7 separate regions of the Homo sapiens genome follow, and all the other regions are reported to be linked to region 6. Evidence: microRNA targets listed by miRTarBase, many of them from high-throughput screens and not tested one by one. Region 6 holds a microRNA gene; each other region holds the end of a gene's coding sequence. Distances are from middle to middle.

Region 1 (4,318 bases), not on the chromosome of region 6:
CATTATTTTTGTTCTATGTAAAATTTTATGTAAATAAACCCATCAAAATCTTGTCTTACAGTTGTGTTTGTGGAGTTTTTTTTTCGAGATAGAGTCTTGCTCTGTTGGCCAGGCTGGGGTGCAATGGCGCAATCTCAGCTCACTGCAACCTCCACCTCCTGGGTTCAAGCAATTCTCTTGCTTCAGCCTCCTCGAGTAGCTGGGATTACAGGTGCCTGCCACCATGCCCGGCTAATTTTTTGTATTTTTAGTAGAGACGGGGTTTCACTATGTTGGCCAGGCTGGTCTCGAACTCCTGACCTTGTGATCTGCCCACCTCGGCCTCCCAAAGTGCTGGGATTACAGGCATGAGCCACCGCACCCGGCCTTGGGGAGTTTTCTCTACTGCTAGCTCACATATCCGCCTTCCCACATTCTTTTTTCTTTTTTGGGGGTGTGAGACAGGGTCTCACTCTGTCGCCCAGGCTGGAGTGCTAGTGGCGAGATCTCAGTTCACTGCAACCTCTGCCTCCCGGGTTCAAGCGATTCTGCCACCTTAGCCTCCCGAGTAGCTGGGACTACAGGTGGCTGCCACCACGCCCGGCTAAGTTTTGTGTTTTTTTAAAGTAGAGATGGGTTTTCACCGTGTTACCCAGGCTGGTTTTGAACTCCTGAGGTCAAGCAATCCACTCGCCTTGACCTCCGAAAGTGCTACGATTACAGGCACGAGCCACCATGCCCAGTCTCCCACATTATTTTCTACTGATTTCCTATTTCACCACCGCCCATGAATCACCAATTGCTCTGGAGCCTATCCTGTGTGTGATGCCAGGGAGGGGCAGTGTTCATTTTTCCACATAGTGCACTCTGCCAACATCATGAGGACACTGTCCACCCCTCCCCGACCCCCGGACACTTTTCCCAGTCCCCGAGTCCCCTGGGTTCCTGCTGAGGTGTCCCTGTCTTGGTGCTGTTAGGTCAGGCCTCCCCCCACACTCTCACTGTGGGTTTGCAGCACTCAGGATCTGGTAGGAAAGCGTCTCTCCCAGCTCTTTTTCAAAATGAATTGAATCACAATGTTGACTTTTTTCTTCCATATACATTTTAGAATTTGTCGGGCACGGTAGCTCATGCCTATAATCCCAGCTTTTAGGAAGGCAGAGGTGGGAGGACAGCTTGAGCCTAGGAGTTTGAGACTTGCCTGGGCAATATAGCAAGACCCTGTTCGCCAAAAAAGGAAAAAGAAAAAGCCGGGCACGGTGGCTCACTCCTGTAATCCCAGCACTTTGGGAGGCAGAGGCAGGTGGATCATGAGGTCAAGAGATCAAGACCATCCTGGCCAACATGGTGAAACCCCGTCTCTTCTAAAAATATAAAAATTAGCTGGGTGTGGTGGCATGTGCCTGTAGTCCTACCTACTCAGGAGGCTGAGGCGGGAGAATCGCTTGAGCCCGGGACGCGGAGTTTGCAGTGAGCACAGATCGCGCCACTGCACTCCAGCCTAGCGACAGAGCGAGACTCTGTCTCAGAAAAAAAAGGAAAAAAAATTAAATTTTAGAATTTAATGTGTCTCAAAAAATCAAATGGTGGCTGGGTGCGGTGGCTCACCCCTGTAATTCCGGCATTTTGGGAGGCTGAGGTGGGCGAATCACCTGAGGTCAGGAGTTTGGGACCAGCCCGGCAACATGGCAAAACCCCATCTCTACTAAAAATACAAAAATCAGCTGGGTGTGGTGGCGGGTGCCTGTAATCCCAGCTACTAGGGAGGGTGAGGCAGGAGAATCGCTTGAACCTGGGAGGTGGTGGCTGCAGTGAGCTGAGATTGCGCCATTGCACTCCAGCCTGGGTGACAGAGAATGACTCCTTAAAAAAAAAAAAAATCAAATGGCATTTTGATTAGGATTGTGCTGGATTTAGCATACCTTTCCTCATCACTTCCACATTTTTTGTATGTTTGTAAAAATGTCTGTTAAAGAACAGATGGCTGGGTATTAATTTGGAGCCTTTTAAAACTTGAGACAGGGTCTCCCTCTGTCACCCAGGCTGGAGTGGGTACAATCATGGCTCACTGCAGCCTCGCCCACATTGGACAGTACGGTTCTAGAGTCCTGGTTCCTCAAGTAGACGGTTCTAGAGTCTAGAGTCCCGGAGGCAGAAGGGACCTTGGTGACCACATGATGTGGCCCTCATTCTGCAGGAGGAGAAATCTGAGACCCTGGGAGGTGACGATGCCCTGGTAGCATTAAATCCAGACTTCGGGTGTCTGTCAATGTACATTTTATATTAAAAAAGCCAAAATAACAATGGGGTGAGAACAGGAGGCCACTATACCAGTGGCCAAGAGTTCAGATCCTTGGAGGCCGTCTTTGGAGAGGCTCAATGGGACTCGTATTCTGGCAGCAGCACAGCACCGTGTGGGACACAGGACACCCTCCCCACACCTGAGCTTTCACCCACAGGCAAGGGATGTGGCGAGAACTGACGGGCACACGTGAAAACAGTCAGCCCTGCCCGGCGCTCTTTGAAGGAGAGCTCTAAGGAACACAAGCACACAGGGCTGAGTCAGCTTTTACCCAGCTTTTTTAACTTACCTAATTTTTAAAAAATTGAAAATGGCTGGGTTAAAAGACTAAAAAACCTCGGTTGTTGCAGGTCAAGACTGCCTGAACCCTGCACACCAGGACTAGGGCCAGCTAGGCCAGCCCCCGAATGCCACTCGGACAGCACGTGAATGCCTGTAAAGCACTCTCAGGCCCTGTGTTTCACACGACTCAGGTAGGGACTGTGACTGCCTTCTGAGAGAAGGAAACAGGGATTTCTAGCGAATGAACGCAACGTGTCTTATGTTCTCTCTGTGGCTACAATAACTGTCAACAATCACCCAGGAGGACAGTGTGGCAAGATTTAATTGCAACGGCATCTGAAAATGGTGTGTGACGTCGCGCGCGCCAGCTATCGTCAGTGCCTTTATTGCCATTGGGTTTGTGACTGTTGATATAGTGACGACCTCAGGAGCAACAGGTGGGTTAAAAACCCGTGGCTGGGCAGTTCTTCCGAGGAGAGGGACCACATGAGGAGCCAAGAAGGACTCAGAACCTGACGAACGTGGCATCGATCTGCCGCACGGAGGGGAGGGCGAGCATGACCTTCCGCCGGTACTGGGGGTCCTTCTGCAAGGGGTTCCGCTCCAGGTACACTGTCTCCAGGCTCCTGGCTCCCTTCAGCTCGTCGAGGTCGCTCCAGCTCTCAAGGAGATTGTCGTTCATCTGGGGACACACACAGCAGAAAAGCCTTTAGAACCAAACAGCCCAGCCCTCGACTCTGGTGGGGTCCACTAGCCACCCTCCTCCTTCCCACTCAGAAGATGGCGAGCAGGTGTGGGTCTTCCCTGGCACCTCATGGGACCTTCCATGGCCTCTTGGTGCATCCTGGCCACCTTCAGCTGCATCCCAAGTACAAGTTACCTGTCCATAGCCAACCCTGGGCCAGTCACTATGACGGGGCCAAGTCCACATTCAGGTCAGCAGAGGAAGGACAAAGCAGTTCTGGCCACCTGCCTGCTACACTTGTCCATAGGCAAGTGTCAAAGCAGGGTGGGCTGCACTTTCTACAAACCAGTTCTCAGCCATCATTCCCAAGGCTGCACTCTGCGCCATCACTGTGACACAGCAGACAGAGGCCGCTCTACTTAAAACTCTCAACTCTTCTGTAAATTACCTCTATGGCTCTCTCCACAAGGAAGTCCCAGCTGCTGCTTTCACCCAATACCAAGTGCAGGGACACAAATCGTGAGCAGGTGGGATTCAGAGGTCTGAGTTGCAGGCTACATTTTACCATCTTGGCCCTGCCATGCCCAGTTGGAGGGACCTGCCTTTGGCAGGAAGAGTTCTCTTGCATTTTTTTTTTTTTTGAGACAGAGTCTCGCTCTGTCGCCCAGGCTGGAGTGCAGTGGTGCCATCTCCAGAACAAGGGGAGCCAGTCCAGCTTCAAACCCTGTTGGTCTGACCCTCCCTTTCAAACACCCTGTGTGTAGAAATCACATGTTCAGAGCTGCCCGGCCTCAGGGCCTGCCAGGCAAACCGCGGTGGCAAGAGCACGGGCACTGCTCCTGAAGAGGCAGCTGGACTTGACTGTGAACCTACAATGGGCACAGGCAGGGGCACTCGTTATAGGGTGACAGACTTCGACTCCTTTTACAGGGAAGTTAGGAAGGGAACTGTCCATGTGGAACGGAAGGCAAGCAGGGGCGTTCTACTCTGGGGCCCACACTGCCCACTGCCCTGCCCACAGCTGTGGTCCGACTGGGGGGTCCCTGCATGGACTTCTGGACCTCTGCTCT
Region 2 (4,318 bases), 31 Mb from region 6:
CTCCGTCATGGGGAGGGTCCCTGCTCAGTTCTGGAGACACTGGAGTTGGGGTGGGGGTGGTTCTGCATTCCCTTCTCCTGCTGATAGCAGTCAGCTTGAGGAGGATGACGGAAGGCAGCCTCAGACAGGAATTAAGGCAATGCCCAGGCGGGCCTGGGCACTGTATTCTGAGCAAGGGCCTGGGCCCAGGAGCCAGCCAGGGATGAGTGCCATCATGGCTCTCCACTCAGACTGTGCCTGGCCCCTGCACTTACAACTTCCTGCCGCTCTGTGGCCTTGCCCTGTAATCACTCAGTGCCCTTAGCTAGCCTGACTAAGTCCCAGATCCCCTACAGCTTCCTTCGGTGTGGTATCTTTTGCCACATCCAGGGCGAGGGTTGAGGCAAACCAGCCCTCCCTCTGACTTCCTTGTCACTGCAGCCAGCTTTGCTGCACTTGCTGGTGCACAGGAGCCTCCTGTTTGGGCCTGGGTCTGGGCATGGGGAGGCCGTGCCTCAAAGCCCACCCTACCCCATGCCTTGGTGCTGTGCCTCAGGCTCCTTCCTGGTCTGGCCCAGCTGGCTTCCCCAGCCCCTCAGCCATCCAGGGCTACCCACTGCTTACTCAGGGACCAGGCAGCCCCCATGGCAGTAAAAGCAGCCTAGACAGAACCTGCAGCTCTGTGGAAAGAGGCAAAGTCCTGAAAAGGCAAAGGGTTGTCACTTAGGGCAGCTTCTCCAACTTTAACATGCATCCAAGTCACCTGGGAATGTTGTTAAAATCAGGAGATCTGGGGTGGGGCCTAGGACTCTGCATTTCTTACAGATTCCCAGGTGAGCTGATGCTGGTGGTTAAGGGTAGCAAATCTCTAAAGCACGAAGCCCTCACAAATCTTTGCCATTTCCCAAACACTCCGCTCCATGGTCTCCAGTCATCAGAGCAACTCTACCTGGTATTATCATCCCCATTTTACAGATAATGACACTGAGGCTCAGAAAGGTTGAGGATAAGCCCACTTTCCTGTCATTAGTGGCAGCCCCAGATCCAGACCTAGGCCTCCTGGCACCCAGTCCACTGGCAGTGGAATTGCTTTCCTGAGAATCATTCTGAGGCTGGGCTATTGCTTCTCCCTTGCTTCAAAGAATCTAGCAGCGGGGGATAGGATTTTGCAACAAAAAGCTGACCCAGAGGCCATACAGAGCAGGAATATCCCATTGCCCCCTCCTCCACTGGGTTCAGAGGGTAAGAAAGCACCCTCCAATAAACCCAGGCTCCAGGCCGTGGGGGCTGCTGAAGGCTCTTTCCCCGCAAGGGCCAGGTGTTGACACCTTAAAGCTGGCTGCGCCCCCAGCCCCACTCTTGGCTGTGCTGGCCAGGTGACTCCTAGTTCTTGGCCACATCATCAGAAAGTCAAAGGTCTCACTCCAGGTTTGGGGCTCCTTCCTTCCACTCCCCTCCCTGCCAGAGTCTGTCTTGGCCAGTGCCAGCCTCGATGCTTTGGTTTTGACCCCACCTGATCCTCCTTTCCTCATGCAGCACAAGTGCTCACCGGGGCCAGAGCCAGGGCATGGATATGACAAGCAGGGCAGCCTGGACACTGCCCTCACAGGACAGCGCCAATAACAATACAGTGTCTGAGTATCTCCAGGGGATGATTTCTGGCTCTTTGTCTCCAATCAGTCCCACTCCCTCCTGAGGTCCCCAAGGGCAGTATTCAGAGAGGTTTCCTGCGTTTTATTTCTATTTGGTATACCCTCCACTGTTGTCCACTGCCCTGTGTGGCCTTCTGGTTGACCTCTGCCCGATCTTCTGTCTCTCTGAGGGAATCAGAGTCCAGCATCCAGCCCCAGCTGGAACAGCTGAAGTCACAAGCCTCCTCTAAGCCAAGGCCAGTGTGTTCAGAGGTGACTGCCACCCATACTAGGACAAACACAGCTCAGATCACCAGGTCAAGCACCTAGGCCTGGCTTCTCCTGAGACAGAGGACTCAGAAGTGGCCTTTCCTCCAAAGCCTGCTCAGACACAGGTCTGTAGGGCCAGGGTGTTCTGCTTGGCTGGGCTGCAGCTGCTACCCCTCGGTTGGGGCTGAGTCAGCCAGATCCTCCCCCTACTTCTCCCCAAGGGCCAAGAACTGCTCAGGGACATTAAAGGTCAAAAGTCCAGCCACACTCATTCATCCTTTCCCCAGGCCCATGAAGAGAGGCATCTCATTGTAGAATGTATGAGGAAGTGGGAAGTATCTCAGAGAATCAGCTAAGTTTCCTAACTTGTCCATCCAAATGTGATCACCACGATTCAACAATTTGGGGCATTGCTGATCTAGCCGTTCCTAGTGGGGCTTGCTCAAGGTTGCACAGCGAGTCAGTAGAAGCCCTGGCTGGCCCCACTTGGTACCAATCCACCAGGCAGCTCAGGGCTCCTGCCCAGCCCAGCAGCTTCTGTTGTCTAACGTATGGCAGGCAGACTGGGAGCAGGAAAACAGAGGGCCCCAAAGCCCAAGGCACCAGAAGGTTTGTTTCAGTTTGCTGAAGCTGATTTGTAATGATTGGCACTCTTCAGCCAGGGGAGTGGGTAGGCCATAGCCAAGGATCGATTCCCCAACCACAGCAAAGGCAACACTCTTCCTCCAGAGATCACCAAGCCCCTCTTACCTCCCTCCCTCCTTCCCAAGGCTGGCACTAACCAGGTACCACATTCATTGTTAAGGAATGGCTGATGACTGCTACACGTGTTGGGAACCTGGTTGGGGCTGTGCAGTTTGGGCTGGAAGGAGAGATGCCAGCCCTCGTGCTGCCTCTGGTCCCTGAAGTGTCACCTCTCTCAGGACCTCTCCTCTGGCCTGTGGGGTTATAAGTGATGGATAGCAGAAAGGGAGAACTGACTCCTGTCCCAAATAGCTCCTCTGCCACCTGTCCTGCAGTGGGCCTGTGTGGGTTATGATTCTAGATCCTAGACAGAGGCTGGGTCAGCTGTGGATGGGGTGGTGCCTTGGTCTCTCTTGACTACCTCGTCCAAAGAGAGCACTGCCCTTAGACAAGAGTTGCTTGTCCTGCTGTGGGCTGGGCTTCCAGCTGCAGACCTCCAGTTGCTTGGTGTTCACTTTGCTCCTCTTGCCCTCTGTCTTCTGGTCCAGGCAGATCAGGGGCTCTGGGGAAACTGCTGGAACTCGAGGTGAGGATCAGCCTTTTCCAGCATCCTGTGAGAGACCAGAGAGAGAGTTTGGATTTCATGTGGGGAACCCTCAAGGCCTGTCTGGAGAAGTGACACAGGATTTACTGGGGTGGGCTGGTCCAGGTAGCTCTCCTGAACCTCCTCCTTCCCCAAGCTGAGAAGCTGAGAGCTGGAGGACAATATCCAGGGACATGGCTCTGGAAAATAACTTTTTTTTTTTTAAGAGACAGGGTCTTGCTCTGTTGTCCAGGCTGGAGGGCAGTGACATAATCATAGCTCACTGTACCCTTGAACTCCTGGGCTCAAGTGATCCTCCTGCCTCAGCCTCCTTAGTAGCTGGGACTACCAGTGCATACCACCATGCCTGGGTGATTTTTTAAATTTTTTATACAGACAAGGTCTTGCTATGTTGCCCAGGCTGATCTTGAATTCCCGGGCTCAAGTGGTCCTCCTGCCTCAGCCTCCCACAGGATCGGGATTACAGGCAAGAGCCTCCACGCCCGGCCATGAAATATAATTCTTAATATCATACAGGAAAAAGTCAGCGGGTCAAGCTAGCCTGTGGCCCAGCCACAACTAGCTGACAAAGCTTCCTGGCCTTCCCTTTAACACAGTTCTGCTGCCATAGTTCCATCTATAAAATGGGAATGGAGGGAAATAGGGGAACTGGGAGAGAGAACACAGCCTTGCCAAGCAGCAATGTTAGCCTGATCCTTCCTCCACCTAGCTCGCCATCTCGCCCTTGGAAAATGGCTCCTGGAGGATTAGGCAGCCATCTGCAAGGAGAGGGGCAACCTGGGACAAGACACCCAGAGGGTAAGGATTCCAGGAATGAAGCTGCCATTTCTGGTTGGGAGGAGAAGAGGAAACTTTTAAGAGAAAGGGCTCCATTATGAGCATGGGTTCAGGGCCCTGCATTACCCAATCAGAACAGCCGGGATGAGCAGGAGGCCAGCTCCCAGGAGGAAGGGGAACCCCTTCATAAAGTTCAGAGTGGCTGGGTAGAGTGAGTTGAAGATGCCGGAGGCCGTCAGCATGGCCAGGCTATTCACACAGGCCACAGCAGAAAAGAGAGCACCTGTGAAGAAATAAATACCATACTCTGGAGTCCGAAAGGGCCATATTCCAACTCTGGCACCACCACCTCACAGCTGTGTGACCGGGAGTA
Region 3 (4,318 bases), not on the chromosome of region 6:
ATGAAATCACTACCAAAATGTACACTTTGGATTTATTAAGATTCTAGAATTTAAAAACAGGAAAAGGTGCCATTAGTAAAAACTCCATCACTAACATTTTGGTACCACTCGTAGAGCGTCACATAAATATTCAGACCATGATAACTCAGTGCAGGAATGTTATCAAATATTTCCATGCAATCTGGAACTAGGACCACAGCTGGCAATTGGGGGTCTGAAGGCCCGACATCCCTTACGCTGCTTCCTACATCTTGACAACAGGAAGGCCAAGTGATACTAGGTAGTGCACTACAACAGTGAACATAAGCCAGCCATCTGTTTTTTTGCAAAGTATAGTAAAACAAACAAACAGAACATAGACCACTTCAGAGTAAACAAACATAACTTTCTTCAAGATGTAGGAAAACTGTATATTCAAAACCAATCTCAAACTTTAAACAACAAAAGATATCAAACATTTTAAACTGTACAAAGCAAATTAGCAGGATTTGAATATTGGCAGTTTTAAAATGTCACCCATCCAAAACACAAAACAGGGAGATAGCCAAGTCTTAGCTCCATCCTAATCAAAGCTGTCATGCAGATCCAGTTCCACTCTTCTCATCTCCAGCAGGTACTTCACTCAAGGAGGTGACACCCAAGGGGAGTAGATGAACCAGAAACAAGAGTGCCACATAGAAGGAAGAGAGGAGACCTTGGACCTTAGCTACTGGTTAGCTATTCGACATTGATGATATTCAGCGTTTTCCCAAGTTATTCTTTCTCGCTTCTCAGCACATAATTTACATTATGCATACTATATGCCAGAAACTGTTAGTGCTTGACATGCAGTCAGTTAATTTTCACAACTGGGTGAAGTAGGTTTCTATCATTAGCTCTATCTTAGGGACAAACAAACTGAAGCACGGAGAGGTTAAATTGTATTCCTAAAGCACTACACAGTGAGCAAATAGATTCAGACCTGTGCAGTCTAACCCAGAATTAGCTCTGAATCACTCTACCATTCGGTCTACAGGACAATGTAGACCAGACTACAGGACAATGTAGATTTGGTCTACAGGACAATGCAGAGTGCCTGTGTTTCAGGCACTCTCATGGTGATTTTCCACACAGGACGGCTTTTGATAATAGAAAGGCCCTCTCTTTCAAATGAAAGGACTTCACTGATGGATTAACAAATTCTCACCCATTCACCTGTGTGAGCCAAATACTAGATCTACTTTCTTAGTCTTCATAACAAGCAGGACGATAACCATAATTTATAATGAACACAAAACATTGATCTAGTGTTCAAAGAACTTTTGCACACTTGTTCTCATTTAGAAGAATGAAGTAATCTGGAAACATAGAATAGGCATACACTTTGGCTTTAGGAAGAACTCTTACAAAATCAGAGGTTGCCTTATGTAATACCACACTTTACCTTGAGCAGGTGGATAGCCTGGGGGTTCCTGTTATACCTCAGTCTTGGTCAGTTCTATTTGTTCCCCTGTCCTTCAGCAGTGCCCTTAGGCTTGCTTTAAACATTAACAGCATTCATAAGCATGGTTTCTAGGGTCAGAGCCCAGCCTCCCTCCACCCACCCGGCTCCCTACACACCTTGACAGTGCTCTTTGAGATGCCTCAGTTGTAGTCTCCTTGTAATTGTGCACAGTAGACGTCTGAACGAATAGACCAGAGTCCTGCAAACGTGATCTTGAAATCACTATTAAAAGAGCCTTTGCAGAGATCTACTCAGGAAAATTTTCTGAATAGACAAATGCTTTTAAAGGGGGTTCTAGACAGCCCATCTTCTTGGCCTCCTTCTGCAAAGTAGGACTACATTAAAACCTTGTCACAATGTGACCTGAGCAAAACCATTATCAAGTGATCTAGTTGTCTTCAACCATACAAAAGAAAATTGACATGATTTCAGGATAGGTTTAGAAAAATAACGACCAGCGAAAGGAAAAAAAAAAGCGGGGGAGGGGGTTCCTAGAGAATTTAAGAGGCTAATATTTTAGCAAAAATTTAAAGATGCTCTTTATGATACACACATTTCTCATTGCTTTACAAACTTTAAATGTAACACAAATTCGTTTTTCACACTGTTTTGTTATTTGAGGTAAGGCATTCCTGCCACACACAGCAATGACTTGTCCTGGAAAACCAGGGAGGCTGCAGGTCCTACTGTTCCTTCTCTACTAGCTGTGGCTCCACACTCTCACCTCTACCAAAGAAAGCATTTCAGAATTTAGGAGTGGAAATGATGACAACATTGAATAATCCTAATTTTTTTTTTGAGACAGTCAATGTCGCTCAGGCTGAAGTGCAGTGGTGTGATCTAGGCTCACTGCAACCTCCACCTCCTGGGGTCAAGCAATTCTCCTCCCTCAGCCTCCCGAGTAGCTGGGATTACAGGTGCCTACCATCACGCCTAGCTAATTTTTTGTATTTTTAGTAGAGACAGGGTTTCACCATGTTGGCCAGGCTGGTCTCAAATTCCTGACTTCAGGTGACCCGCCCGCCTCGGCCTCCCAAAGTGCTGGGATTACAGGCATGAGCCACCATGCCTTGCCAATGATTCTAATTTATATTTTTAAAAATTACCCTATAATCTTAAAACTTTTAACTGACTAGTATCCAACCCTTAAACTTCATAACAATCATTTCCAAAGTGGAAAAGTCACTGGGATATGGGGACAGTATGATTTGTCTTTATACTTTTATTTTTCTAACATCTTTTTGTTTTCTAGTATACATGTTAGCACAGGAGTATGTATATTACTTAAGTATGCCTATGTTGGGGTGCAGACATAATTTCTTTTTAAATGATAGGATGCAAAATCAAATCTGTTTGCATACCAGTGAAGAGGCTATTTCTCAATCTTGGCAAACTAGGGGGTGCATACCCCCTTCTTTTATTCAGTAGCTTCCATAAGGATGTAACTTACGGAAGTTATATCCTTCCATAAACTGATAGGCTATCCAACCAGTGAGGAAAACTGATAAAGTGGCTTCTGAGCTCCAAGTAGCAGTTAAACACAACTAAATATATCTTGAAAGTTTGGAAAAAAATTTAACAGTAAAGGGATTCAGTAGTTATTCAGTATAAGGTTTGGAATTCAAAAACTCCAGCCATTACAATAGACATTTATTTAAAGTAAAACATCTTCAGACCAAATAATTCTTAAAATTGTTTGTTTCAAGTTTAACCATCTTCATAACAGCTGCATCCACAGACTTCAACTACATGATTACTTCTTTGCCCATTCTTCTCTTTCTTTTCTTTCCCGAATAACCTCTTTCAGATACGGTTCAAGGTAGAAATTTTCCTAAAGAATGAATGAAATATTATATGTTACCATCACGTACTGATATATCCCAAACACTCAACAGGTCTTCAATAACAAGAAAAAAGCAATTACTTTTGAATTTCCAATTTTAGAAAACATATTCTCAACCTAAGAACTATCTGCTTTTTAAAATGTCAAATCTGTGGTGATGGTGTGATAAGTTGCTTTGATAGGTTATGAGGGGGAAGTCTTTTCGGGAAGAAAAAGAAATGAATGTCCACAGGCCTTTGCCTAGTTTCAATGCAGTTCAAGGGGTGAGAGTTTGCTTCACAGAAGCTCTTCTTGGGATCTGGAGGGACACTCAATGGGCTGATCTTTTCATCTAAGTAGGAAGCAGAGTGCAGAGCTGGAACAGCAAAGACCTGGGAGGCAACAGACCTGGATTTTAGTCCTGGCTCTCTATATTAGAGACTTGCTTAGTAATTTCAGAAGAATCATTTCACACGTAAGACTCAATGTGGTTTTCTTCTAAAACGGAAATAACATTTGCTTTATTAACCTCACATATTTATTTGACATGACTCAGAGAACTCTAACACTATGCAAATGAACATGTTTCTCTTGTTTCTAAAACTCCATCCTTAATGAGCAACACTGTCAGGTAGATAAAGCTGTGCTACCTCTTCATATTTGGTCCACTGCTCTTTAGGCAAGATCTGATGCTTCAAGTTCAGGTCCAGTGCCCTCTTAATGCGAAACATCCTGTCATTATAAAGGTTCTCAGGAAGTCTTCTTATGGCTTCTTTTACATCTTCATCCTCGTATATTGTATCATCTCGCATTAACCCTATGATAGATGACAAAGTTAGATTGCACATGCATCTCAAAAATCGCGGTTTTTTTAAATTAGTAAAATACCTTTATGACTTATAACTTACAACTTTTGGTGAACTATCGAATTCAAATCACTAGGTTCAATGGAAATTCAATGCATTTCATACATTATAGGTTGGTGCAAAAGTAATTGCAGTTTTGCCATTAAA
Region 4 (3,000 bases), not on the chromosome of region 6:
AAGTCATGGAGTTGGCCCAAGTTCTGACCTCCCTGGTATGCTTTCCTCTGAAGAAGTGGGGTCTCTCTCATACGGGTTAGATATGTACAGCAAATGCTTTATTTCCTTGCATTTCTCATGAAGACATCACATTTCATGATGCTACACTCTTGGCCTAATCTGCTGGTCCCCCTTTCCCCCCCAGCCTGCCTTTTCACCTTGTCTCTGGATGGATCAGGACCCTTGACTTCTCTGGCTGTTGGTGACGCCATCTCCTTATTGTGTGCAAGTTTTAACAGAGGAATTCACTTACTCAGAATGGACCACAGCCAAGGGCTGGAACTGCAGGAAGTGGCAGCATTCTGAGGCCAAGAGACACTCACTGGACAATATCAAACCATGGCTCCTCCTCAGCATGGCTTTGTGTCTTTCCCAGTTATCTTGAGGGGAGTGGGATGTAGGGCTGGTATTCTTTGCTTAGGTTCATTTACAAGATGTATCAGTGTTGTAAGTCCAATAATTTAAGTCCAGTGATTCAAAATCAGGTATAGAGTCCAGAAACATGGACTACACATAAGGTTCTCTATTTAAGTTAAATACAAATGCAACTTTTTAGTGAGCTTTTAGGACTACTCTTCAAAAAAAGTGTATTGCTCAGAATGATGACCTGTAAATGTAAGAGTGGCAGGCCTCTGTCTGTGAAAGTCAGAACACAGGGCTCGAGCCTCTGGAACTGACCCTTTGCAAGTCTTTACAAAAGAAAAAAGGCAGTGGGGAGAGAGAGTGTTTTGGTTACATCAGAAATAATTGAGATGGGAAAGAATAGTGCAGCTCCATAGAGGAGACGGACTGTAGACAATGAGATTAAGCTTCAATCACTGCTCCTCAGCAATGTGAAGAATCAAAGTCAGGGCAAGAAAGCGAAAGCTTGGACTTCTATTCAAAGTGGCAGCAGAGTGGGAGGGCGGTACCCTTCTAGCCCAGTGCTGCTGAGCTTGTGTGAAAATCAGACCTGAGATGGCTTGAAGCAGCCAAGAACCACATGGGCATTGCCCAGAATTACAGGAGTTAGCACACCAGCTCTACAGATAAGAAAACATTGAAATTCAAAGATTAAGGCCAAAAATATCTCACTTGCAATTTTAATATTTTCATTTGGATTTATATAAATGAAACATATATATGTTTTGGAATGGCCAGAGTGAGGCAAAGGGGATCCCTGAAATAACATTAGAACATACAGGAAAAACGAGGCAGGCAGATCACTTTAGGTCAGGAGTTCAAGACCAGCCTGTACGTGCGTGCCTGTAGTCCCAGCTACTCGGGAGGCTGAGATGGGAGAATCACTTGAACCTGGGAGGCAGAGTTTGCAGTGAGCTGAGATTGTGCCACTGCACTCCAGTCTGTGTGACAGAATGAGACCTTGTCTTGAAAAAAAAAAAAACAAAAAACCACATACAGGAAAAAAGAGAGGGATGGAGTCAACTGTGCCCCAGACATTAAGCCCCCTTCAGTGAGGAGGGGCAAGGTGCTCAGGCCTGCCTGTGTGGCCCCCAGGAGTCAGACCTCAGCCTCATGCTCACTGGTCCATTTTCCTCCAGGGAAAATGGAGTTCTTTCTGCCTTCAGAGATGCCCACACATAAGGCACATGAGGCTGTTGGTGACACCATCACCAACACTGGAGATTCCCTTTCTGACAAGTCCCAGCCAAAGAAAGATTTTGCATTTGTCTTCTCTGTCCTCTGCTTGTCTCTGATACCAGTGACTGACAGCCACCTTCCTTCTTCCCTCTCTTGGTGTGATCATGGCTAACTGCAGCCTCAATCACCAGGGCTCAATCAATCCTCCCTCCTTAGCCTCCTGAGTAGCTGGGACTGCAGGCATGCACCACCACACCTGGCTAATTTTTTGTGTGTTTGTGTGGTCTAAAACTCCTGGGCTCAAGTGATCCATCTGCCTCGGCCTCCTTAAGTGTTGAGATTACAGGTATGAGCCACCACATCCAGCTGAGAGTCTGTTCTTAAGCTAGTACAAAGAGTCAGACCCGACTTTGAATCTCCACTTCTCCATTTAGCTGGATGATCTTGGGCAAGTTATAAAATCTGTTTCCTCTTCACTTTATAACGTGGGTTTCATGATCATACCTCGCCACAGGGCTGTTCTGAAGACTGGACATAGCTATTTTAAATGCCAGGAAAGGCCAGGCGCAGTGGCTCAAACCTGTAATCCCAGCACTTTGGGAGGCCGAGGCAGGAGGATCACCTGAGGTCAGGAGTTTGAGACCAGCCTGACCAACATGGAGAAACCCCGTCTCTACTAAAAATACAAAAATTAGCCAGGCGTGGTGGTGCATGCCTGTAATCCCAGCTACCTGGGGAGCCTGAGGCGGGAGAATCGCTTGAACCCAGGAGGCGGAGGTTGCGGTGAGCCGAGATTGTGCCATTGCACTCCAGCCTGGGCAACAAGAGCGAAACTCCATCTCAATAAATAAATAAATAAGTAAATGCCAGGAAAGGTGGTGACAAATGGTAGCCATAATTATTTATTGTCCTCTCTGTCCAGACTAAATGTTCCCTTTTCCATATTAAACATTTACCATTCTGCCGGACGCGTTGGCTCATGCCTGTAATCCCAGCACTTTGTGAGGCCTAGGCGGGCAGATCACAAGGTCAAGAGATCGAGACCATCCTGGCCAATATGGTGAAACCCCGTCTCTACTAAAAATACAAAAATTAGCTGGGTGTGGTGGTGCCCGCCTGTAGTCCCAGCTACTCAGGAGGCTGAGGCAGGAGAATCGCTTCAACCGGGGAGGCAGAGGTTGCAGTGAGCTGAGATTGTGCCATTGCACTCCAGCCTAGGCAACAGAGAGAGACTCTATCTCAAAATAAAATAAAATAAAATAAAATAAAATAAACGTTTACCATTCCTTGATCCTTTTTTTTTTTTTTTTTTTTGAGATGGAATCTTGCTCTGTCGCCCAGGCTGGAGTGCAGTGGTGCAATCTCGGCTCGCTGCAAGCT
Region 5 (4,127 bases), not on the chromosome of region 6:
GCAGTGGCGCGATCTTGGCTCACTGCAAGCTCCGCCTCCCAGGTTCACGCCATTCTCCTGCCTCAGCCTCCTGAGTAGCTGGGACTACAGGCGCCCGCCACCACGCCCGGCTAATTTTTTGTATTTTTAGTAGAGACGGGGTTTCACCGTGTTAGCCAGGATGATCTCGATCTCCTGACCTCGTGATCCGCCCGCCTCCGCCTCCCAAAGTGCTGGGATTTCAGGCGTGAGCCACTGCGCCCGGCCTGCATATCACTTTCAACTCTAGCTCATGAAGCTTTTTTCTGTGCAGTCATTTACTCTCTCTCTTACTCAGTGGGAGATGGCAGAGCCACAAGATGGAAGTGGTGGTTGCTTGAATTTGGAAGGCTACCTCAAGAACATTCACACCTGTCGCATGAATAAGTTTCTAAAGCTACTGCGATTTTGAGGATTGTTACAGAAGTTAGCCTCATACTGACTAATCCTGGTAGCAAAAGGGCATTTGATAAAATTCAGTACATATTCCTCATTTTTAAAAACTTATAAGATGGAATAGGATTCTTTTAACTCATTAAGAAATACCTATCTTATGTCAAATGCCAACATTGTTCTTCATGATGAAGTACTACAGGCATTTTCTTTAAAATAAAGAAACAAGACGAGGATGTCTACTGCTACTACTATTAATGTTAACTGGCTACAAGTTCCAGCTAATAGCTGAGGAATAAAATTACCATTATTTGAGAGGAAAAAATCATCCACCTAGAAAATCCAGGAAAAATCAACTGCAAAATTATTAGAGGGATTGAGGGACTTTAATAAAGTCATCTGCTACAAAATAAATATTACAAATTAATGTTTCCTATATGATCTTTAAAAAGTAAATTGTGTATCTTGAAATACATTATATATAAAATAATCATAAAACAAAAAGGTACTATGAAAAAAGAACAAAATTTTTAAAATGCTGTGAAATTAAAAAATGATAGCCAAAAAAACTTCAATCAAAAATTAAAAAATACATTTGATAAAGTTTCAAAGAAAAAAATCCAAAGAGATTGGCAAAAGGAGAGGAAAGATGAGAAAATTAAAGGATCCATCCAGGAGTCCAATATCTGACTAAAAGGTGAGAAAAAGCAAGCAGAAGGAAGAAAATTATAAAGAACATTTAGCTGATTTGGATGACTAAGCTTTATTCAAATTTCCTTAGTTTTTATCTAATGTGCTTTTTTCTTTTCCAAGATACCACATTACATTTAGTTGTCATGTCTCCTTCAGCTCCTCTTGGCTGTGATAGTTTCTCAAACTTCCCTTGTTCTTGAGGATTTTGACTCCTTTTGAGGAGGACTGGTCAGCTATCTTGTAAAATGTCCATCTGCTGAGATTCATCTCATATTTCACAACTAGAGTGAGGTTATAGGTTTTGGGAATATCAGAGGTAAACTGCAATTTTCATCACATCATATGAAAGGTAACACTCTCAACATGACTTACCTCTCTTTTGACTTTGATCGCCTTCTGAGTAGTGAGGTACCTCTCGCTGAGTTTGTCAGGTTTCTCCACTGTAAATGCTACTCTCCCTGTACCACCTGTACTTTGGATTCTTTGGAAGGAAGTCACTATGTGCTGTCCATTCTTATAGGTGTGTAGTATCTTATTGTTTTCCTTGCTTGTACTTTTAAGTTACATGATGTGTATCTAGTAATACATCAGCAGTACCTGGGGATCTTTTTCTCTTGCTTGTGCCAATTCTTGTTCATGTTTTAATGAACAAAAAATGGTCTTTTTTGCATACCTGATTGTTTGATTGTATGATGAGCACTGTGGTACTTTTAGAGTATATAAAATAACATTTTCTTCCTCCAGAGAAGATTTTCATTTACCTGGTGCTTGAGCTACCTTAATCTAATTTCAGGGTTTGAACTTTTTCTATCTACCCAGACAACTTGAAGCAGGGCTGCTTTATGTACAACTCACATGTACTTTTAAGATCCAACCCTCTGAGGTCACAATTCTAAATGTAGGGTGGTTGCAGACCCCTTGTCTTCCAGCCCTTTGAGGCTGTCAATAGCACTGTTCCACTTCTCAGCTGCCCTTTCCAAGTCATCAAGTGCTCCTGGGCAAAACAGCTCCAAATGTTGGGCTTTGTAGTGAGAATTTCTCTCTTCTCCCAGATCTTAACCTGGCAATTCCTCACTATCTTATTAGTTTTTTAATGTTTGGGGTTAATATTATTTTATTTCTTTTTTTCCCCCATCACAGAAATCTGCCTATTGTTTTATTTCATCCACATATTCTAGCCTTCTGTTTTGGGAGGTTTGTCTGTATCACCTAATACACTGTTAGGAGTGAAAACTGGGTCCTGGGTTCCTTTTGCTTCACCCCTCACACTCCAGATCTTTCCCACTGGCTTTAAAAAGTTACAGTTAATATAGCTTTATAATTTACATTTTTGGAAAGAAATAGTGACAAAAAGCAAGAATCTTGACTGCATTCTCCTTCAAGGTTAAAAAGAAGCCTCTGACTTACCAGCCATGGAGTCACTAATCTAAAAAATTATACTACTTCCTTGGCCAGAACTACTATACCTAACCACAGAATACTCCATAATTCTTATACAAAGATAATTTTATTAATGAAAAGATCACACAAAACAAAGTTTTTGTATTCAAAGTTGTCTGTTTAAAATGTGGAAAAGGTAATATTTACAACATTTCCCATACAGTACATAGTTTTTGTGCCTTAACAGAATGCTAAATAGAGAAAAAAACCAAAAGCAAATGCTAAATTGAGAGAAAATCAAAAGCATCAGAAAATCTTGCCCAAAGAATAATACTTAATAGGAAACAAAATTAAGAAAACTCCTTAATATTTTAAAGTATGTTGTATAAAAACGTTGTGTCTTGTTTATTAAAACTACCTTTTTTCCATTTGATTGGCACTAATATCGCTATCACACTTTTTAATGTTCAGCAAAATCCTAGTGAGCTGCCGAAATGAATTCTACAAAATGTCTGAGAAAGGTACTGTATAATACAAAATGTAATATTCTAAATGTTAAAAAACAAAAGTTAAAACAAAAAATATAAGCAACTGTAAGTGGTTATAATACAATCAATGGGTGGTCATGAAACATTAAAAAAGGGAAGTCAATTGCACTTGGCCTAATATACAAAAGACTAACATTTTGTCTACTAACCCTTTAGGACATTTTATTTTAAATATGCAGAAGGATCAGTGAGCAGCATAATACAATCAATAGTGGACACTCTTTGAGTAAGCACCTTATTTCAGTTACATAATTTAGATCTGTGAAATTCCTAAAACGAGACTATAAAAATCACACATTTTAGATGGTAAGGTATCAATAAGTGGGTTTTTAAAGTTAAATTCCTATTATAAGACTTTTTGGTATATCTTTTTTTACAGTATAAAAGAAGACTATTTTACAATTTTCTTAGAAATTCAGTGTAAAAGCTACCAAAGTGCTAAAATATCACAATAGCATGATAAAAATACTTGAATAGGATTTCAAAAAAGTTCAAATACATATAAGCTTATTTTCAAATATGTATAAAAAGATACAAGGATAAGATTTAAATACTTCAGCAAAGAAATATCTTGATTTTATATCAAAAAAGTAAAATAGCATAGTACATCTTAAAATACTCTTACCAAGAGTAGAATCTTCATAAATAGAAAAGGAAGATTCCTCTAACTCTGTCCTCCCACACTATTAAAAAAATATTATTAACCTGCACATTTTCTGTTTTCAGGTATATTGTTGTCATTAACCTTTGTGTGAAATGAGTCATATTATTCTTGAACTCTATTTTTTCCAGTATAACAGTAGGCAATGCAACTTTAAGTGCAAAAGAAGAATGTAACAGTGATTCTTACAAAACAGTGCATAGGTCACTTCCAGTGTAACACAAATTTGCTTCTGAGTAACGAGAGAAAATGTTCTTCAAGTATCTGAATGACAACCACCTCCCTGCTCTTTTCTCACTCCTGAAACCGGGTGAACAAGCAGAGATGTGGAACCTTTGAGGCTGCTTGGTTCTGAAGAACTGGGGACCTGCAAATTGTTGCTCTGTGCCAGGCCAGTGTCAGTAATATCACTCTTTGGACTAATCCTAGATAAA
Region 6 (3,000 bases):
AGATTTTTTGCAAGACAATTATTAAACATAGGCATCATTACAAATTAAATTATATAAATTAGCCGGACACGGTGGCTGAAAAAAATATTTTCTACCACACCCATCCTGAAAAAATATATTTAAAAAATATATTTTTAAAATATATAAAATAATTTTTAAATATATATTTTAAAATTTTATATTGCATATTTAATTTTATATTTTAAAAAATATATTTTTAAAAAATATAAAATAATTTTTAAAATATTTTTTTAAAAAGACAAGAAAAACAGCTTCTGCTAGATTTGATGTGTACTTGTAGTCCCAGTTACTTAAAGAGCTGAGGCAGGAGGATTGCTTGAGCCCAGGAGTTCAAGGCTGCAGTGTATTATAATCTCTCCTGTGACTAGTCACTGCACTCCAGCCTGGGCAATATAGTGAGACCCCATCTCCAAAAGGAAGGGAGGAAGGAAGAAAAAAAAAACAGCTTGTGGGTAGAATGTTATCCTCTGTGGAAAATTGTATAGAACGTCTAATAACACACAGGGGCAGTACTGACTTATTATTATTATTTAGACCGAGTTTCGCTCTTGTCACCCAGGCTGGAGTGCAGTGGCGCGATCTCGGGGCTCACTGCAACCTCTACCTCCCAGGTTCAAGAGATTCTCCTGCCTCAGCCTCCCAAGTAGCTGGGATTACAGGCGCCTGCCACCATGCCTGGCTCATTTTTTGTATTTTTAGTAGAGACGGGGTATCACCATGTTGGGCAGGCTGGTCTCGAACTCCTGACCTCAGGTGATCCACCCACCTCGGCCTCCCAAAGTACTAGGATTACAGGTGTGAACCACTGTGCCTGGCCAGTACTGGCTTATTAGTGAAGTCAGTGGGCTAGGGAATAAGCAGGGGGCAAAAAGGATGCCAAAATGTTGAAAGATAGAAAAATAAGCTTTTTTTTTTTTGTTTGAGACGGAGTCTCACTCTGTTGCCAGGCTGGAGTGCAGTGGCACAATCTTGGCTGACTGCAACCTCCACTTCCCGGGTTCAAGCGATTCTCCTGCCTCATCCTCCCGAGCGGATGGGACTATAGGCGTGCACCACCATACCCAGCTAAGTTTTGTATTTTTAGTACAGACAGGGTTTCACCATGTTGGCCAGGCTCGTCTTGATCTCCTGACCTTGTGATCCGCCCTCCTCGGCCTCCAAAAATGCTGGGATTACAGGTGTGAGCTACCACGCCCAGCCGAAAAATCATCTTAAATGTCTGCTCTGAACCCTTCATTTTATAAATGAGAAAATAGCAAAGTAACTTGCCTCTAGTTCTATTTCCATTACTGTTTTCTTATGTAGTTAGACAAAGTTATAGATGATATTTAAGCCATTAAGAGTCACACATGTGGAAAAAATGTAAATTCTTTTTTTTCTTTTTGAGACAGGGTCTTGCTTTGTTGCCCAGGCGAGTGCAGTGGCACAAATCACAGCTCACTGCAGCCTCAACCTCCTGGACTCAAGAGATTTGATTCTCCTGCCTAAGCCTCCTGAGTAGCTGGGACTACAGACGTGCACTACCAAACCCAGCTAATTTTTGTATTTTTTTGTAGAGACAAGGTCTCGCTATGTTACCCAGGCTGGACTTGAACTCCTGAGCTCAAACAATCTTCCCGCCTTAGCCTCTCAAAGTGCTGGAACTACAGGTGTCAGCCACCACACCCATCCAAAAATGTACATTCTTCACCTAAAATTAAAGTTTTTTTATGTTTTAAATTAATATCACTAAAGTTACAAAGCTAGTCAACTAAAAATTCCCTCTGAACACAACATGGTAGTATGGTACAGAAAAATAAAAGAATTCGGATACATGGTAGAAATTCTAGTCCTAGTATCACTAACCAGCTATGTGTCCCTAGGTTAAGTCCCTCATTTCTTTGGGTCTCTCCTATCAAATGAGTTGGAATCTAAGATCCTTTTCAATACTAAAATTCCATTATTTCTTTATACTACAAATAAACCCATTTGTCAAAAAGAAAAGTTACCTTCTTCTAATAAATTAAAAATTTACATTTAAGCCTCAGATTTTAATGTTTATAGTGAAATCTAGTTCCTTGTTTTCTTCCTAAAGATGACTTTTGCTTGTTTCTGCTACATACTTTCTGCAGCCTGCCCATTGTTCTTTCCAAACACCAAAACCCTATAAGCAATATTGCACTACTCAGAACTATTTACACAGCAGAGACAATATTGATAGGGTTCTAGGATCTGGTGATAAACAGAATTTTTTTTAGTTAGATGGCAGAAATTCACTAAGCAATTATGATAATCTAAAACTCATTAGTGTCTGATAAATCGCGCAAATTTGATTCTGATAAACATCATTCACAGCCCTTTCAGTTACAAATCAGCCTCCTGGAAGCCTTGGAAATCAGTGAGGTTATTGTTTAACTTTTTAGGGGCAATGGAATATTTAAAATAAAACTAGTGATTTTTGTAAAGCCCAAGATATTCGTATTTCAGAAACCAGTTTTCTCTAAAATCAGTAATAAAAATAAAGGGGAAAAGTTTTATACTGATCTGAAAAGTGGTATATAAAATACAAAATTAGGTGAAAAAAGTCTATGGAAATCATCATGAAAGCACCCCAAGGGAAACCAGGTTACATTCTGCCAGTTAGATTTCTGATTTTTTCCTCCTATTTTGGAATATTTGCATAATAATTACTGGTTGAGCATCCCTAATCTGAAAATTCAAAATCTGAAATGGTCCAATGAATTTTGGATTTTGGAGCATTTCAGATTTTGGAATTTTGGATTAGGGATGCTCAACCAGTTGTTTTGTTTGTTTGTTATTTTTTGAGACAGCGTCTCACTCTGTTGCCTAGGCTGGAGGGCAGTGGCGCAATCTCAGCTCACTGCAACCTCTGCCTCCAGGCTCAAGCAATTCTCATGCCTCAGCCTCCCGACTAGCTGGGACTACAGGCACACGCCACAACGCCTAGTAAATTTTTTGTATTTTTGGTAGAGATGGGGT
Region 7 (4,189 bases), not on the chromosome of region 6:
CTATACAGCCACACTGACCACCAGCAGCGCCAACATGCCAGCTGTGCTCCAGGCTGCCCGCCTGCTGGAGATCCCGTGTGTCATCGCTGCTTGCATGGAGATTCTGCAGGGCAGTGGGCTAGAAGCTCCCAGCCCGGACGAGGATGACTGTGAGCGAGCCCGCCAGTATCTGGAGGCCTTTGCCACAGCCACGGCCTCTGGAGTTCCCAATGGTGAAGACAGTCCTCCACAGGTGCCCCTCCCACCACCTCCGCCACCGCCACCTCGGCCTGTTGCCCGCCGCAGCCGCAAGCCCCGGAAAGCTTTCCTGCAAACCAAGGGGGCCAGAGCAAACCACCTAGTCCCTGAGGTGCCCACAGTGCCCGCCCATCCCTTGACCTATGAGGAGGAGGAGGTGGCGGGCAGAGTGGGCAGCAGTGGGGGCAGTGGGCCGGGGGACAGCTACAGCCCTCCCACAGGAACTGCCTCCCCTCCTGAGGGTCCCCAGAGCTACGAACCCTATGAGGGTGAGGAAGAAGAAGAGGAGCTGGTATATCCCCCAGCCTATGGGCTGGCGCAGGGTGGCGGGCCCCCGCTGTCCCCAGAGGAGCTGGGCTCAGATGAGGATGCCATCGATCCTGACCTGATGGCCTACCTAAGCTCCCTGCACCAGGACAACCTGGCACCAGGCCTGGACAGCCAAGACAAGCTGGTGCGCAAACGCCGCTCCCAGATGCCTCAGGAGTGCCCTGTCTGCCACAAGATCATCCATGGGGCAGGCAAACTGCCTCGCCACATGAGGACCCACACAGGCGAGAAGCCCTTTGCCTGCGAGGTCTGCGGTGTTCGATTCACCAGGTGAGCAGCAAGGGGGGAAGGGCCCGGCAGGGGCCATGGGTAGGGGACAGGGTGGGAGGAGATGGGGAAGAAGTTAGGAGACCCGAGGTGGTGGTAGGTGGTCCTGGAGGGACTGGGGCATGGGTGGGTTACTGGAGTGAGGAGAGCAGAAGAAAACAAGCCAGCAGGGGGTGGATCTGGAGCATGGAGGATTCGGTGCCCAGGAGGGCAGTGCTGGAAGCAGAGGAGTGGATAATGACAAGGCCTAGTTAAGCTAGAGGTGAGCTAGCAGGGTATCTCCTGGGGCAATAGTGGGGTAACAAATGGTGAGGAACAGGGATGGGACAAGGCCAGGGTGGGATGACCAGGAGGAGCCAGGGATCCCATCCTGAACACCTCCCTGCCCCTCACCCCTGCCTGTGCCAGGAACGACAAGCTGAAGATCCACATGCGGAAGCACACGGGAGAGCGCCCCTACTCATGCCCGCACTGCCCAGCCCGCTTCCTGCACAGCTACGACCTCAAGAACCACATGCACCTGCACACAGGGGACCGGCCCTATGAGTGCCACCTGTGCCACAAGGCTTTCGCCAAGGAGGACCACCTGCAGCGCCACCTCAAAGGCCAGAACTGCCTGGAGGTGCGCACCCGACGGCGCCGCAAGGACGATGCACCACCCCACTACCCACCACCCTCTACCGCTGCTGCATCCCCCGCTGGCCTCGACCTCTCCAATGGCCACCTGGACACCTTCCGCCTCTCTCTAGCTCGATTCTGGGAGCAGTCAGCCCCCACTGGGCCCCCGGTCTCTACCCCAGGGCCCCCTGATGACGATGAGGAGGAAGGGGCACCCACCACACCCCAGGCTGAAGGTGCCATGGAGTCCTCTTAAAGAGGGACGAGGGCCAGACTGAAGCAGCACAAGGCCGGGGACACCCATGCCAAGCAGTGGGAGCACGCAGGACAGACACAGCAGGGGTCTGGGGCACGGAGCCTTGCTGGCATCAGCATCAGCCCTTCCTCCCAGAGCCCTCATTCCAATTCCAAGCTAAGAAGGTATTGGGGCAGAGGCTCCCCAAATTGGGGTGATCCCCCAAGGAGTGATACATATATTGTGTATATATTTACAGCTGTATTGTAAAAGTGGGGTCCCTGTCCCCAGCTGCTCCTGGGGAGTAGAAGCAATAATGTATTTCTAATTTGTGGGTCCCACTTCGGCTATGCGGGTTTCTAGGGGGTGGGGGCTTGGGACCAAAGCCTTGCCCCGCCCCTATGCCCCTTGGGGGTTTTGGCTGTGTAAGGGGGTGAAGGACTGCCCCTCCCTTTCGAGACCCCTCCTTCCTGGTTTCTGTTCCTTTTTCCTGGCAGTGAATTATGCAAAGGGGGCCGGCAAAGGAAGGGTAGGTGGGGGAAAGCCAGGTGGAAGCTTGAAAGACTGGGGGACTGGGCCTGTAAGGAAGGAGCCATCCCAGTCCCCCTCCGCCCTGCTCCCGGCGCTGAGTCATGGGGTCGTGGAGAAGGGGGCGGGGTGGCCTGATTGGCTCGCCTGCCCCTGGGGGCAGTAGAGGGGCCCCGCCCAGCTAGGGGAGCCGCTCCGTTCCACTCCCCTCCCTAGCCCTCCCTCCCCACGGCCCTGGGCAGGGAATGTCTTGTTCCCGCCGCTCCCTCCCCGGGGCCAGAGGGCAGGGCGGGCCGGGCGGCGTCCTACCCTCTTCTCCTCCTCCCCATCTCCTCCCCGCCCAGGTGCGAGCCGGAGCCGCCGCCACCGCTGCCGCCCCTGACTCACGCCGCCCCCGGGCTGGCGCAGCGAAGGGTGTGGGACAGGGTAAGGGGTTGGAAGAGCCTTGTGGAGAGCGGGCGAGCCGGCGCCATCTGGCGGCCATGCTCTGAGTGGGCGAGCGCCCCCCGCGGCCACTGGAGCGAGCTGTCTTCACGCTCCTCATCCACCCCAGCTGGTGAGCGGCGCCCCCTTGCCAAGGCAGTGGGCACAGAACTTCTCGCTTGGCCGCAGGGGAAGGGGCTGCGGACCTGTGGGAAAGTGATCCCCTTCCCAGATCCTTGCCAGCCGGGCTTCCTGTCAGGCAGGGGAGAATAATCCCCACTCTGCTCTTAGGATTGAATCCACCCCCATTCTGTACATAGCCTCTTCTGTTGGTCTTGTTGAAATCTAGTTTCAGATTTTTAACTACCCAATTCTGCTGGGGGTGGGGGACACCCCCCCTTCCTCGCTGGGTGCTGGACCCCTTTTGCAGCCTGGGCTCTGCCTTGCACTATTTCCCCTTCCTGGCCTGACGGCTCCTCCCCCTCCTTAAAAGGGGCAGGTTCAGGGGCCCGGTGCTCTTCCTCCCTTCCATGCACCCCCATGCCCATTTGCACAGCTGCCCAGGTACCCCTAACAGTGGGGAGGGGTCACAGGGAGGGGGTAGCGGGACCAGTCCCTGTTATCTATTTAAAAAGTGATGATGTAATATATTGGGGTGGCGGGGAGATCGGGTTGTCCTGGGCCTCATCTTAGCATTTCAGGTGATGGGGGGAGCCCAGGGCTGGGGAGACCTGGGGCCCAGCCCCAGAAAGTGGGGACAATGTGGCCTCCCTTCTCCCTACTTTCGGCTTTCCCAGTCAGTGCCTTAGGGGGAGAGGCACTCCCCCCCTCCTATTCCCTTCCCCCCACCCCAACTCCCCCACCTCGGGTGTAAGCGACAGGAAGAAATAATAATAATTTAAGATTCACACTTGTGTCCACTTTTGGTTTATTTGGGGGGTGGGTGGGAAGGATCAGGAAGAGAGGGAGGTGAGAGAGGGACTGAGGGTTCTGAAGCTGGAGTGGGGGCTCCTTTAGTGGCGGAGGATGTCTCAGGTGGTCTGTGGGGCTCAGGGCTGGTGAGAATGCTGACAGGCTGATGGGCTTCAGGTAAGGGCTGCTGCCCGTGCTTCCTCTGCTGAGGCCCCTTCTCCTCATCCAGGTCACTAGTGAGGAGAGGAAGGGGGTGGCCGGATCACCCACCTTCTGTCTTCACAGGTGCATCCCTGCCCCCTGCCCTGCCCCATCTGTTCAGATCCAGCTCCTGTTCTTTCTGAGCAACTCCTGCTCTCTCAGGCCCACGAGGCGTACCAGCCCATGGCTGTAGATATTTTCTGATTTTAGGCTGATGCTGGGGGGTGGGCAGTGACTTGCCTGAGGCCACATGGCTAGGAAGGGCAGAATCACTAGTGACCTCAGTAGTCACACCTGCTCAAGGCTCAAGCTGTCCCCTCTGCTGACCCAGCTTATCCTTTCACTGGGCCCTCTAGAACCTCTGAAAAGAAAGCTTTGCTTCCCCTTCAACCTCTTGACTCATCATGACCTCTACCGCCCCATTCACACTGGAATGTG

What was found. The annotated mature microRNA hsa-miR-454-3p reads UAGUGCAAUAUUGCUUAUAGGGU and lies in region 6 at 2,162-2,184, opposite strand. An mRNA with a match to its seed (bases 2 to 7 or 8) in the 3' UTR can be bound and repressed. Matches are read on the target gene's strand: a 7mer-m8 pairs with bases 2 to 8, a 7mer-A1 pairs with bases 2 to 7 and ends in A, and an 8mer does both.
Region 1: miRTarBase lists PPP1R7 as a target of hsa-miR-454-3p. The part of its 3' UTR that is shown has no 7-base or 8-base seed match.
Region 2: the mRNA of SLC46A1 is a reported target of hsa-miR-454-3p. The part of its 3' UTR that is shown has no 7-base or 8-base seed match.
Region 3: miRTarBase lists UQCRB as a target of hsa-miR-454-3p. Seed matches in the 3' UTR shown: 7mer-A1 at 282-288.
Region 4: the mRNA of WDR31 is a reported target of hsa-miR-454-3p. Seed matches in the 3' UTR shown: 7mer-m8 at 2,423-2,429 and 7mer-m8 at 2,823-2,829.
Region 5: the mRNA of FZD6 is a reported target of hsa-miR-454-3p. Seed matches in the 3' UTR shown: 7mer-m8 at 3,850-3,856.
Region 7: the mRNA of ZBTB7B is a reported target of hsa-miR-454-3p. Seed matches in the 3' UTR shown: 8mer at 3,082-3,089.

Annotation. Positions count from the first base shown.
Region 1 is chr2:241,181,574-241,185,891 of GRCh38, reverse strand. PPP1R7 (protein phosphatase 1 regulatory subunit 7) reads right to left here. Exons shown (of 10, transcript NM_002712.3): 10 at 2,240-3,245. The coding sequence ends at 3,069. All of the region lies in intron 2 of LOC105373971 (a long non-coding RNA gene), which reads left to right. Among named protein-coding and RNA genes, the nearest start is that of ANO7, 4.9 kb to the left of the region's middle.
Region 2 is chr17:28,396,539-28,400,856 of GRCh38, forward strand. SLC46A1 (solute carrier family 46 member 1) reads right to left here. Exons shown (of 5, transcript NM_080669.6): 4 at 4,072-4,228; 5 at 1-3,175. The coding sequence ends at 3,118. It overlaps SARM1 (sterile alpha and TIR motif containing 1), which reads left to right. Exons shown (of 9, transcript NM_015077.4): 9 at 1-4,318. Among named protein-coding and RNA genes, the nearest start is that of SLC46A1, 7.5 kb to the right of the region's middle. RefSeq lists enhancers at 510-1,193, 1,958-2,047.
Region 3 is chr8:96,227,819-96,232,136 of GRCh38, forward strand. UQCRB (ubiquinol-cytochrome c reductase binding protein) reads right to left here. Exons shown (of 4, transcript NM_006294.5): 3 at 3,956-4,122; 4 at 1-3,314. The coding sequence ends at 3,237. Among named protein-coding and RNA genes, the nearest start is that of UQCRB-AS1, 5.3 kb to the right of the region's middle.
Region 4 is chr9:113,314,094-113,317,093 of GRCh38, reverse strand. WDR31 (WD repeat domain 31) reads left to right here. Exons shown (of 11, transcript NM_001012361.4): 11 at 185-3,000. The coding sequence ends at 345. Among named protein-coding and RNA genes, the nearest start is that of RNF183, 12 kb to the right of the region's middle.
Region 5 is chr8:103,331,332-103,335,458 of GRCh38, reverse strand. FZD6 (frizzled class receptor 6) reads right to left here. Exons shown (of 7, transcript NM_003506.4): 7 at 2,593-4,118. The coding sequence ends at 3,950. Among named protein-coding and RNA genes, the nearest start is that of SNORD173, 24 kb to the right of the region's middle.
Region 6 is chr17:59,135,626-59,138,625 of GRCh38, forward strand. It overlaps MIR454 (microRNA 454), which reads right to left and starts at 2,247; the gene lies at 2,133-2,247. The region is part of intron 1 of SKA2 (spindle and kinetochore associated complex subunit 2); the gene reads right to left.
Region 7 is chr1:155,014,978-155,019,166 of GRCh38, forward strand. It overlaps ZBTB7B (zinc finger and BTB domain containing 7B), which reads left to right. Exons shown (of 3, transcript NM_001256455.2): 2 at 1-837; 3 at 1,243-3,546. The coding sequence ends at 1,708. DCST2 (DC-STAMP domain containing 2) reads right to left here. Exons shown (of 15, transcript NM_144622.3): 15 at 3,550-3,783. The coding sequence ends at 3,567. Among named protein-coding and RNA genes, the nearest start is that of ZBTB7B, 14 kb to the left of the region's middle. RefSeq lists an enhancer at 2,298-2,442, a silencer at 2,339-2,808 and a cis regulatory region at 2,370.